Regions from separate parts of the Homo sapiens genome. Here region 2 is linked to region 1. Evidence: fine-mapped expression QTL. A gene starts in region 1. The other region holds a variant in brackets. All regions are shown on one strand. Distances are from middle to middle.

Region 1 (5,252 bases):
CTAGATCGATAGTCCAGAAATTAGAGGCACATTGTAATTCATGAGAGAACATTTATACTTGACCTCAGTAGGAGGGGCCAAATTAAGTACTACTTACTACCAACACCACCTTAAGGGTCAGAGTTTTAGTTTTGGATCCATGCTTTCCACTGCAGCTGAAATGAATATGCAAATGCTGAGGATATATGATAGCAACTTCTCTGTCAAAAAAGAAGACAGCCTATCAGAATATAACCAGTTTTTGCATTTTTTGTCTTAGCTACTGTGGTCATTGCAACTGGTAGACCATTCTTCCATGACAGTGGAGTTGTCATCATATTCCTTCTACGATTTTATATGAATAAAGATCACATTATTGTATATTAAAAACCATGCTTATTACTGTTGGTTTTGGTACCATGCCTACTCTGGAATAAGTCAAGTATACTGCCCAACTCTTGAGCATTAAGTCAGCACTATTCTATGTTGAAGGATATAGTATCTGTAATGAACCTGGCTGCATTTAAATTAACCCTGTCAAAGAATACAGTGCACTCAAGTTTCAATAGTCTATGCTTTTTAAAAGAAGAACCCACTACAGAAGAATCAACAAAATGACTCTTCTGGATCATGCTTTTAGAGCTACATCACTACAAATTATAGATCCCCATCCATGGTGTCAGGCACAACATGAAAGAAATTTCTGAACGGAAATAATACTGGTGAATAACTTTTCCAATGTATACAGCCTATCAAAAAATCAGGGAGCTAAAATGCTTACGTTAAATCTTAAAAATATATTAATAGATACTGCCAATTGTCAAAATACAACAAAAATAGTGGCTATTCAAGCTATGTTTCACAGATCACATGGCTCTAGGTTACTCTAGCTATTAAAGGAGTGCGTACCCTCATTGGAAAGAAAGCTGCACACATATTCTAGATGAGTTAAGAGGGTATCCATGACCTGGCTAATTACAACATAATTCATTTTGGTACTTGAGTTCTGAGGTCTGCTAGGAAACTGGGAAGAAAGACTGTACGAGACACACAGATAATTCCATTTGTGCAAGTAGTGCTAATAAAATGTGACTTCCTTGCACTATTAAATACCCCAAATCTTGCTTTATCGAGATGGCATATGATTATTTACTTATTCTTCTTCTTGTTCTGTCACCCAGGCTGGGGTGCAGTCATGCAATCATAGTTCACTACAGCCTTAAACTCCTGGCCTCAAGTGATCCTCCTGCCTCAGCCTCCCAAGTAGCTGAGACTACAGGCATGAATAACCACACCCAGCTAAGATGACATTAAAATTTTTAAATGCATCTACAAATAAAACTTAGGATTTATGACAAAGGTAACAATGCAGTAATATGAAGAAAGGATAATAATCTTTTTTCACAAAATGGTGTAAATGGTGCTATATGAATTGTACATCCACACAGGAAAAGAATATTGGGTCCACTGATACCTTACAGCATACACAAAACTAAATTTCAGTCAATTGCAGATCTAAATATAAAATGTAAAACTAACAATCTTAGAAGAAAATATAAAAGAATGCCTTCAGTCACCATGGAGTATGCAACGATTTATTAAACAGAACACAAAAAGCATTAACCACCAAATTTTAAAACTGGAAAAATTGAACTATATTAAAATTCATGCTTGGTGTCAAAAATCACCATTAAGAAAGGGAAATATCAATCAATAGACAAGAATGATATTCATTACAAATATATCTGACAAAGGACTTATACCCAGAATATATTTTTGATAAAACTCAAAAATTAATGTGAAAAAGACACACAAGTAGAAAAATGAGCAAAAAAATCTGAGCAGCCATTTACAAAAGAGAACACAGTATGGCTAATAAGCATATAAAGTGCTCAACTTTACTACTCATCAGTGCAATGCAAATACAACCACAGTGTAATACTTCTACCCCTACAAAAGAATGGCTAAAATAAAAACAATGGGGAAATAGCAAATGCTGTTGAGAAGGTGGAGCAACCACTCTGAAAAAGTGGCAGTATTTATAAAAGTTGAACATCATTATATTCAATGACCCAATAATTCTAATCCTAGATAAATATGCATTTGTTCCAACTAAAGACAAGTCTAGAATGTTCAGCTACCCTAGGGGTACTATTCCCAAACTGAAAATGACAAAATGGCCAGTAACAGTAGAATTGATAAAAAAAATTGTGACATATTTAGGCAATAGAATATCAAACAAGGAAGAATATAAAGAACCCTCAGCTATACACGAGGTGGCTGAAACTTACAAAGAGTGACTGAAAAAACCTGACACAAAAATAATGCATGCACTATGATTCCATTTATATAAAGTCTGTCGGAAGTCTAGGTAATCGTTATTCTTGGGATGTTGGAAGCAGGTACTGGAAGGGGACAGGAGGGGGGGTTCTGGGATACAATGTTCTTTATTTTCTCTAAGTTCCTGTTATATGGGTTTCTCCAGTTTGTGAAAATTTATTCAGATGTACCCAAATCAAAAAGTTAAAACTGAAACAAAAATAATAATTGCAATGGATCGCGTTATTTAAAACAAAGGCGACCACAATGAACTCCTCTCTCCCCACCCCCTAACCCCTGCGCACGCACACGCACAATGAAGCGAAACCTCATTGGCTGGGATCAGTGACGCACTTCTGAAAGCCGCAGTTTGGCACCATCTTTTCCATCTCCTGCTCCTTCCGCCTTCCCGCCATCCGCCCTCCACACGATTCAGCCCGGTGGTGTTAGCCCCCTGGACTCGATTCCTGAGGCAAACAGTGCCCCTTAAGGTCGGCGACAGCCTCTTCTGGGTTCACTGCAGTCCAACCGGTTCCCTACCCTCTGCCATTATGAACATCCGCAACGCTCAGCCAGACGACCTGATGAATATGCAACACTGCAACCTCCTTTGCCTTCCTGAGAACTACCAGATGAAATACTATTTATATCATGGCCTTTCCTGGCCCCAGCTTTCTTACATCGCTGAGGATGAGGACGGGAAGATTGTGGGCTATGTTCTGGCCAAAATGGAGGAGGAACCAGATGATGTCCCGCATGGCCATATCACCTCACTGGCCGTGAAGCGTTCACACCGGCGCCTCGGCCTGGCCCAGAAGCTGATGGACCAGGCCTCCAGGGCCATGATAGAGAACTTTAACGCCAAATACGTGTCTCTGCACGTCAGGAAGAGTAACCGGCCAGCCTTGCACCTTTATTCTAACACCCTCAACTTTCAGATTAGTGAGGTGGAACCTAAATACTATGCAGATGGGGAAGATGCTTATGCTATGAAGCGGGATCTCTCGCAGATGGCAGATGAGCTGAGACGACAAATGGACCTGAAGAAGGGCGGGTATGTGGTCCTGGGCTCCAGGGAGAACCAGGAGACCCAGGGCAGCACACTTTCTGATTCTGAAGAGGCCTGTCAGCAAAAGAACCCGGCTACCGAAGAAAGTGGCAGTGACAGCAAAGAACCTAAGGAGTCTGTGGAGAGCACCAACGTCCAGGACAGCTCAGAAAGCTCGGATTCCACCTCCTAGAGCATGCTTAAGGTATTCTGTCTTCCCTGACCCAGTACCCCCTTCTCCTAAATCCCTGCATCCTGCCTTGGCCTGCCCAATTCCATCCTGTCTTACCCCATTCTGGCCCTGCGAGATTTTACGGTAAAAACCACCTGGTGACCTTAGGGAGAAGTTAGAGTGAGTTGAGGGAGACTCATTACACGCTATTGGAAGTTAAATAGGATACCAGCTCATGCTGAAAGTAGATTAATTTCAATGAAGAAACAAGCATTTATCCTGCTTTTTGGGCATGAGTTGTATTTCAGGGTAACCACGTAGTTGATGAAAGGCATTTTTTTCTTTATGGAATTCCAGTTAGTAATAATGATAGAAATATAAAATCATCATTTTCCAACTCTTGATGAAATAATGGACCCAGCCAAGAGTCATCAATGGCTAATAGCATTAGGTAAAAGTTGGAGCACTTTGTAATGATGGATCAGACTGACAACACTTGAAGTCAGTGTAGTCAGTCTTCACTAAACGTGGAGACAAATATGTGTCTCCTTATGCAACAGGAAGTGCACAGTACTACCTATGAAATATTCTTTCCAAAAGAAAATTATGAGATCTGACTACCATTTTACAGAAAATAGAGGGACTTGTTAAACTATACCATGATGCAAACAGCCAAATCCAGAATGAGAGGTTTTTACAAAACAAATGACCTGGTTTCTTCAACAAATAAATGGCACACACACAAAAAAAGATGAAGCATTTTCTGTTAAACTTTACAGATACATTAAACTCAACTGCTATGGACATTGTTTGGATACTGATTCAAACAAACCATGTATAAGACATTTTTGAGATAATCAGGCAAAATTTGAACGGGGACTATATTAAGGAATTACTAATAATTTTATTAGAGGAGCTAAATGGTATTGTATTATGTTTAGAAAGTCCTTATCTGTTAAAGATACATACAGAAATAATTATAGCTGAAATAATAGGATGCCTAGGATTTCCTTTAAAATAATCCAGCAAAAAAAGAAGAAAAAGATTGAAAGAGGGAAAATGAAATAAGAATGGCAATGATAATTGTTGGGTTGGGAAATGGGTACTTAGGGGGTTCCTTATGCCATTTACTCTTTCGAATGTGTGAAAATTAGCATGAAAAGTTAAAGAGCCAAAACAATTACTGTACTTTTTTTTTTTTTTTTTGAGACAGAGTCTCGTTCTGTCGCCCAGGCTGGAGTGCAGTGGCGCGATCTCGGCTCACTGCAACCTCCACGTCCTGGGTTCAAGCTATTCTCCTGCCTCAGCCTCCCAAGTAACTGGGACTACAGGCGCCCGCCACCTCGCCTGGCTAATTTTTGTATTTTTGTATCTTTTTTTCTTTTTTTGAGATGGAGTCTAGCTCTGTCGCCGAGGCTGGAGTGCCGTGGCACTGTCTTGGCTCACTGCAAGCTCCGCCTCCCGGGTTCACGCCATTCCGCTGCCTCAGCCTCCCGAGTAGCTGGGACTACAGGCGCCTGCCACCACGCCTGGCTAATTTTTTTGTATTTTTAGTAGAGACGGGGTTTCACTGTGTTAGCCAGGATGGTCTTGATCTCCTGACCTCGTGATGCGTCCGCCTCGGCCTCCCAAAGTGCTGGGGTTACAGGCATGAGCCACCGTGCCCGGCCTAATTTTTGTATTTTTAGTAGAGACAGAGTTTCAGCATATTGGCCAGGCTGGTCTCGAACTCCT
Region 2 (5,252 bases), 110 kb after region 1:
ATATATACATATAAATACAAAGTAATATAGCAAAATATTTATAATGACTGAATGTGAAATGGAGGTATATATGTGATCATTGTATTAGTCTTTCAACTTTTCAGTTTGTTTGGCATTTCTATATTTAAGAGTTGAAAAAAATGTCAATGCATATCATATAGCACAAATAACAGGAAATCAAGCTTATGTTTCCCCTAAGGTCCATTTTAGTCCTTCGATTCTAGAATCACAGAAAAGGAGATTGAGAATAGTGGTTACGGATAATAAAAGAAAAATGGAGGGATTAAAAAACAGCTTTCTATAAGCCAATATCATAACAGCTTGCTCATTAGATCAGTGTGATTACTTCTTTATTAGGCCTTATTTGAGCTGTCATCTGGTATCAATTAGGTCAGTTATAGTCTGTCAGGTCTACTGGAGGGAAATGGAGCAAGGTCCATCATGGTGAGGATGGCATAATTAAAGCAATGGAAATAATGACTACTCTTCATTTAACCCTCATCCAATCGACCAAGCTCATATTGGCCTTCCACTCATATTGAATGCTAAAGATGTGGAAGGAGAGAAAAAACACTTCCAAAACAGTTTTTAAAATCTTGTTTCAATTTAAAGTCAAATCAAATCAGATTATAAAGAAAATATTGTAGGGACTTAAAAAAGTAAAAGGGCATAACCCATTTATAAATATGTTTCTTAATGATTTAATTCTATATTTACATGTGTATATATGTTATATATCATGTATTATATATGTATATACTGTGAATATTTTTCAACAAAAAAGGTGTAATAAAAGTGAACATCTCTGAATATTTTGCTAAAGTGCAAAAATTTTGCATGGTAGTACAGAATTAAAAGAAGACCATTGATATGAATTGAATTCAGCATATACATCTCTTGATCCTTAAAGAATCTAAGCAAAATCCTGAGACCAAGATTGTAGCTATGTTGAAAATCTTTCCAAAGTAATTTGAAATCAGGTTGATTTTATTCAATTACACCTCAATTGTAAAGGTAACAGAAGAAGCAAAGAAGACATAGAAATCCATTTCAATCTAGACATTAAAATATTAAAAAATAGCGGAATTGAGGTTGGGATAATTACTCCAAAAAATTGAACTATGGTGAAATTTCACTTTTATACTCCTGATAGGTAATAAAGTATTTGGACTAATAGTTATCATATATGACAGATGTGAGTTATCAATTTTAATAACTCTTGGTTTTATTAGGTTTTAAATTAGACCTAAATGTACTTCAAAATTCACAAACCTTTAATGACTCAGAAAGCTTTTTAGTATTTTATGGAGTTGTATATGTAAAAATACAGCTAAATATATAGTCACCATAGACTATGTTGTCTAAATTGTTTTTCCAACCAAAAAAAAAAAACTAACTTATTTGTCACTTCCTTCTTTCCTAAATAAAGTACAAAAATGGGGAATATGAAGGTGGGGAGCACATTACATACATGTTTAAGTTATATTGTTAATTTTGATTACAAATTAATGGATGTCTAGCTGAGTGAGGACACATGATACTGATCTGTATTCTCTTACCCCACTGCTGCCATGAAAGTAACTGTTTGACCTATCTTTGACAACTCAATCTTTCTGGGCCTCAGTTATGTCATTTATGAAATGAGGAGAGTATATATTACCAGATAATCCCTAGGTTACTATTCAGTTTTAAATTCTGCACCCTTCATGACTTAGTTACCTCCCTCTAAAGTCATTTACCTTAATGGGAAGGAATTAGGCAAGCACCAAAAAAGGAAAAGTAATATCAGACACTTCTACACATGTATTATTTCTTCCTTCCTTCTCTCTTCCTTCCCTCCCTTTGTTTCTTCCTCTTCTCTCTTTTAAGATTTAGGGATTATTTCTTGTTTAACTGATAAAATTACCTACAATGTAAGATATTATGGTAATTATAATATCCTGTCAAATGTTCTACATTGTCACAAAATTTGCAGGTCTTACTTCCCATATGAATTTTCTAAATCTTTTATCATCAACTGATATCAGCTAATGGCACAGTTACACCACAGCATCTTAATTAGTTTAGCTCAAGTGTAATTTTGGTATGATAAAGCTATTCACTATAATAATTCATGTGCTTATATTTTTCCTTTGATCTTCCCAAAATTCTGATAAAACATTGCTTGACTCTTTACAATTTAAGAAGCTATTAGTGTTAGACACAAGATTAAAGATTGCATCTACCTCTGTTTTAAACCTTGATTTTTTGTTCATACAATCCTTTTTCT[A/G]TTTACTCTGCCAAATAATAGTAGTAGAAGGAAGTTTTAACCCCAAGCTTTTGGGGGAAAATGAGATAGTCACCAATATTACCACCTAAAATCATGGCAAAGGTATCTGCTATCCCAGTCTCTGGCAGCTCTTTCACAGCTTTTCATCTAGAGTTTGATAGGTAGTAGCTTTCCATTGCCTTCCAAATGAGCCTAGGAGGCCAGTTCACCAGGACTCCCTGCAGTTCTAACAGAACACAGACAAGTTGATCTGCATCCCAAAGCCTGCCACTGGGGCTATATGAAAATGCTGCCTCACTAATAGAAGCACAATATGCAAGATGCCAGTGCATCTCTGTGATTTACAATATGTCTAATGAGCAAACCCAATGAAGAGGTTTGTTGTCTACCATAAAACCACATGGATGTAAGCAGTGATTAGAAGCAATTAACTCTGTTCAGCACTAAATAACTTTCTGTCATTAATGTACATTTTTCCACCTCATTAGAGGTACGGAGGAGAGCATGAGGTAAGGTGCACTCAATTTGAATTTCAGATATGCATATGTTTGGTGGAAAAATTCCATAAATTTGTGAGGAAAACAGAATACATGTTAATAGAGGCCTTGTATTGAAGCCATTTTTATTCCATCAATACTGGCTTGGGCATATACTCAATTTTACCAGCCATCCACCACTCCTTAGGTGAATAGGAAGCTCATGAAGTCAAGTTCTGGTAAGAAACACAAGAGGTGGTCAACAAACTAGTGACAGTGAACATAGATTTTCTTTTTATTTGCTGTCAATATAATAGACTATTCTTTTAAATGATTAGTGATGTCATTTCAAAGAATAAATCTAGAAAATATAATATTATTTAAGATACTTTTTGGGAAATTCAGCCTAAGACATCCAAAAATGTCACTCAGCCCTCCTCTACAAATATCAAGTGTATATAATACCATTTCAGTCATTTGATGAATTTATTAAAGAAGAGAGTTTTGCTAATTGATAGTCTTAATTAAAAAATAAACTTTGACTCTACCCACCAAAAAGAAATCTTTCAAAATGTATTGACTTTTAAAAATAATGTAAGAGATGTTCTGGGTCACAGGCTTATAGTATAATATTAAATGAGTAAAGGAGATATACTATGATCTCAAACATACAAAAGCAAGCTCAGGAAAAATGTGCAAATAAATAAACTATAATAATATTAACAGATATTCTAGAAAATGGGACTCTGGATGGTTTTATTTTCTTCATTATTACTCATAGTTCCCAACTTTTCTACAGTACACAATTTTTTGTTCACTTATCTCCTACCTTGCTCCCCAAAGGACTAGATACAGCTTAAAAAGTAAAATAATTGAGATAAAGAGTAAACATAATTGAGATAATATTTTTAAAATAAAATTATTTGTGCTTATAAATGATTATAAAGAATAGAACAGAGTACTTAAGAGAATGAAATACATGTGTATTTATTTTCTTTTGATGATTATGAATCTGTAATAGTTATGGTTTACCAAAGTCAATAATAGTTAATAATATAATTCTTCTAAAAATACATTCTAAAAATAATACTTAGAGATAAGGTGTATAATACTCATTCTTTGCCAGGTATTTTTCTAATTTGTATGTATTCATTTATTTAATCCTCACTCAATAATTCTATGAGATAAGAACTACTATTATCCTCATTTTATAGTTCTTGACTACTTGGACTACCTGTATTCAAGTCCAAGTCATGCTAGCTACATGAGCATTTTGAAGCAGATTTGCTGTTTACTGGTTACTGACTTGCCTAAATCCAGTAAGACAGAATACTCACATAGATGACAGGTTACATGCAGCAGGCAGAAAGCGACAATTGTGAATCAATACCTGAAGGCTCAGGAAAACTACCTGGGGTGGATAGAGTCTTACTTTTTCATGGTCCACTTGTACCACAGCTGAGGAAACCCAGAAAGCAGCCCAACCTGGGTTTTACACTCCAGGATAACATGATTTGCTGGGATGAAGCATTCAGGGACATCTTCTTTTTAGGGGGGACTGGAATAGAGCCTTGGCTGTTCTGGCCAGTCTACTCTTTTCTCAGGATTTTGCATTCCCAGCATATTTTACAGTTATTCTTGAGAACTTCCAGTAAGGAAAGGGAGGGAACTGGTTGGCCCAAGACTACCCAGAGAACTACCCTGCAAACATAAACAAGTCACTCAATGTCTCTGTGCCTCAGTTTCTAGATCTGTAATACAAGGCATATTAATCCTTATTTAGTAGGACTATTGACTAAGTAAATATGTGTAAATTGGTAAGAACAATATTTAGAAAAGAGCAGGTACTATACAATTAACCATTAGTATCACTTAAAAAATAATTTTTAGAAGAAAATTATCACTGACTTTGATGAACAATATGAGAAATTCATGATCAGCAAAAGGAAATAAATACACTCTCTTAGTCTGTTGGTGCTGCTATAAGAGAATATGATAGACTGGGCAATTTATAACGAACAGACATTTATTTGGCTCACTGTACTGGAGAGTAGGAAGTCTAAGATTGAGGGGGTGGCATCTGGCAAGGGCCTTCTTGCTGTGTCATTCCCTGGTGGAAGGCAGAAATGCAAGAGAGGGTGAGAAATAAGACAGGACTGAAGTTGGACTTTTATTTTTATTTTTATTTTTTTTTAGATGGAGTCTTGCTCTGTTGCCCAGACTGCAGTGCAGTGGCGCCATCTCGGCTCACTGCAAGCTCTGCCTCCTGGTTCATGCCATTCTCCTGCCTCAGCCTCCCAAGTAGCTGAGACTACAGGTGCCCGCCACCATGCCCAGCTAATTTTTTGTATTTTTAGTATAGACAGGGTTTCACTGTGTTAGCCAGGATGGTCTCGATCTCCTGACCTTGTGATCTGCCCACCTCGGCCTCCCAAAGTGCTGGTATTACAGGCGTGAGCCACGGAGCCCGATCCTGAACTTGGCCTTTTATAATAAACCCACTCCCA

Which allele goes with the higher level. Positions count from the first base shown, and alleles are read on the strand shown. Sizes are in standard deviations (SD) of each study's normalised expression.
As copies of A replace G in region 2, the expression in tibial nerve of the gene that starts at base 2,666 in region 1 goes down (small effect, 0.33 SD a copy in GTEx).

The links. PIP is the estimated chance that this variant, and not a neighbour inherited with it, causes the effect.
Region 2: its variant is the best candidate, but not a certain one, in a credible set for the expression of NAA11 in tibial nerve (GTEx, PIP 0.65).

The regions. Positions count from the first base shown.
Region 1 is chr4:79,323,475-79,328,726 of GRCh38, reverse strand. NAA11 (N-alpha-acetyltransferase 11, NatA catalytic subunit) reads left to right here and starts at 2,666. Exons shown (of 2, transcript NM_032693.3): 1 at 2,666-3,551. The coding sequence starts at 2,850. The coding sequence ends at 3,539.
Region 2 is chr4:79,214,484-79,219,735 of GRCh38, reverse strand. All of the region lies in intron 4 of LINC01088 (long intergenic non-protein coding RNA 1088), which reads right to left. It also overlaps a transcript of NAA11 not described here. Among named protein-coding and RNA genes, the nearest start is that of NAA11, 110 kb to the left of the region's middle. The variant A/G (reference allele first, on the strand shown) is at 2,270.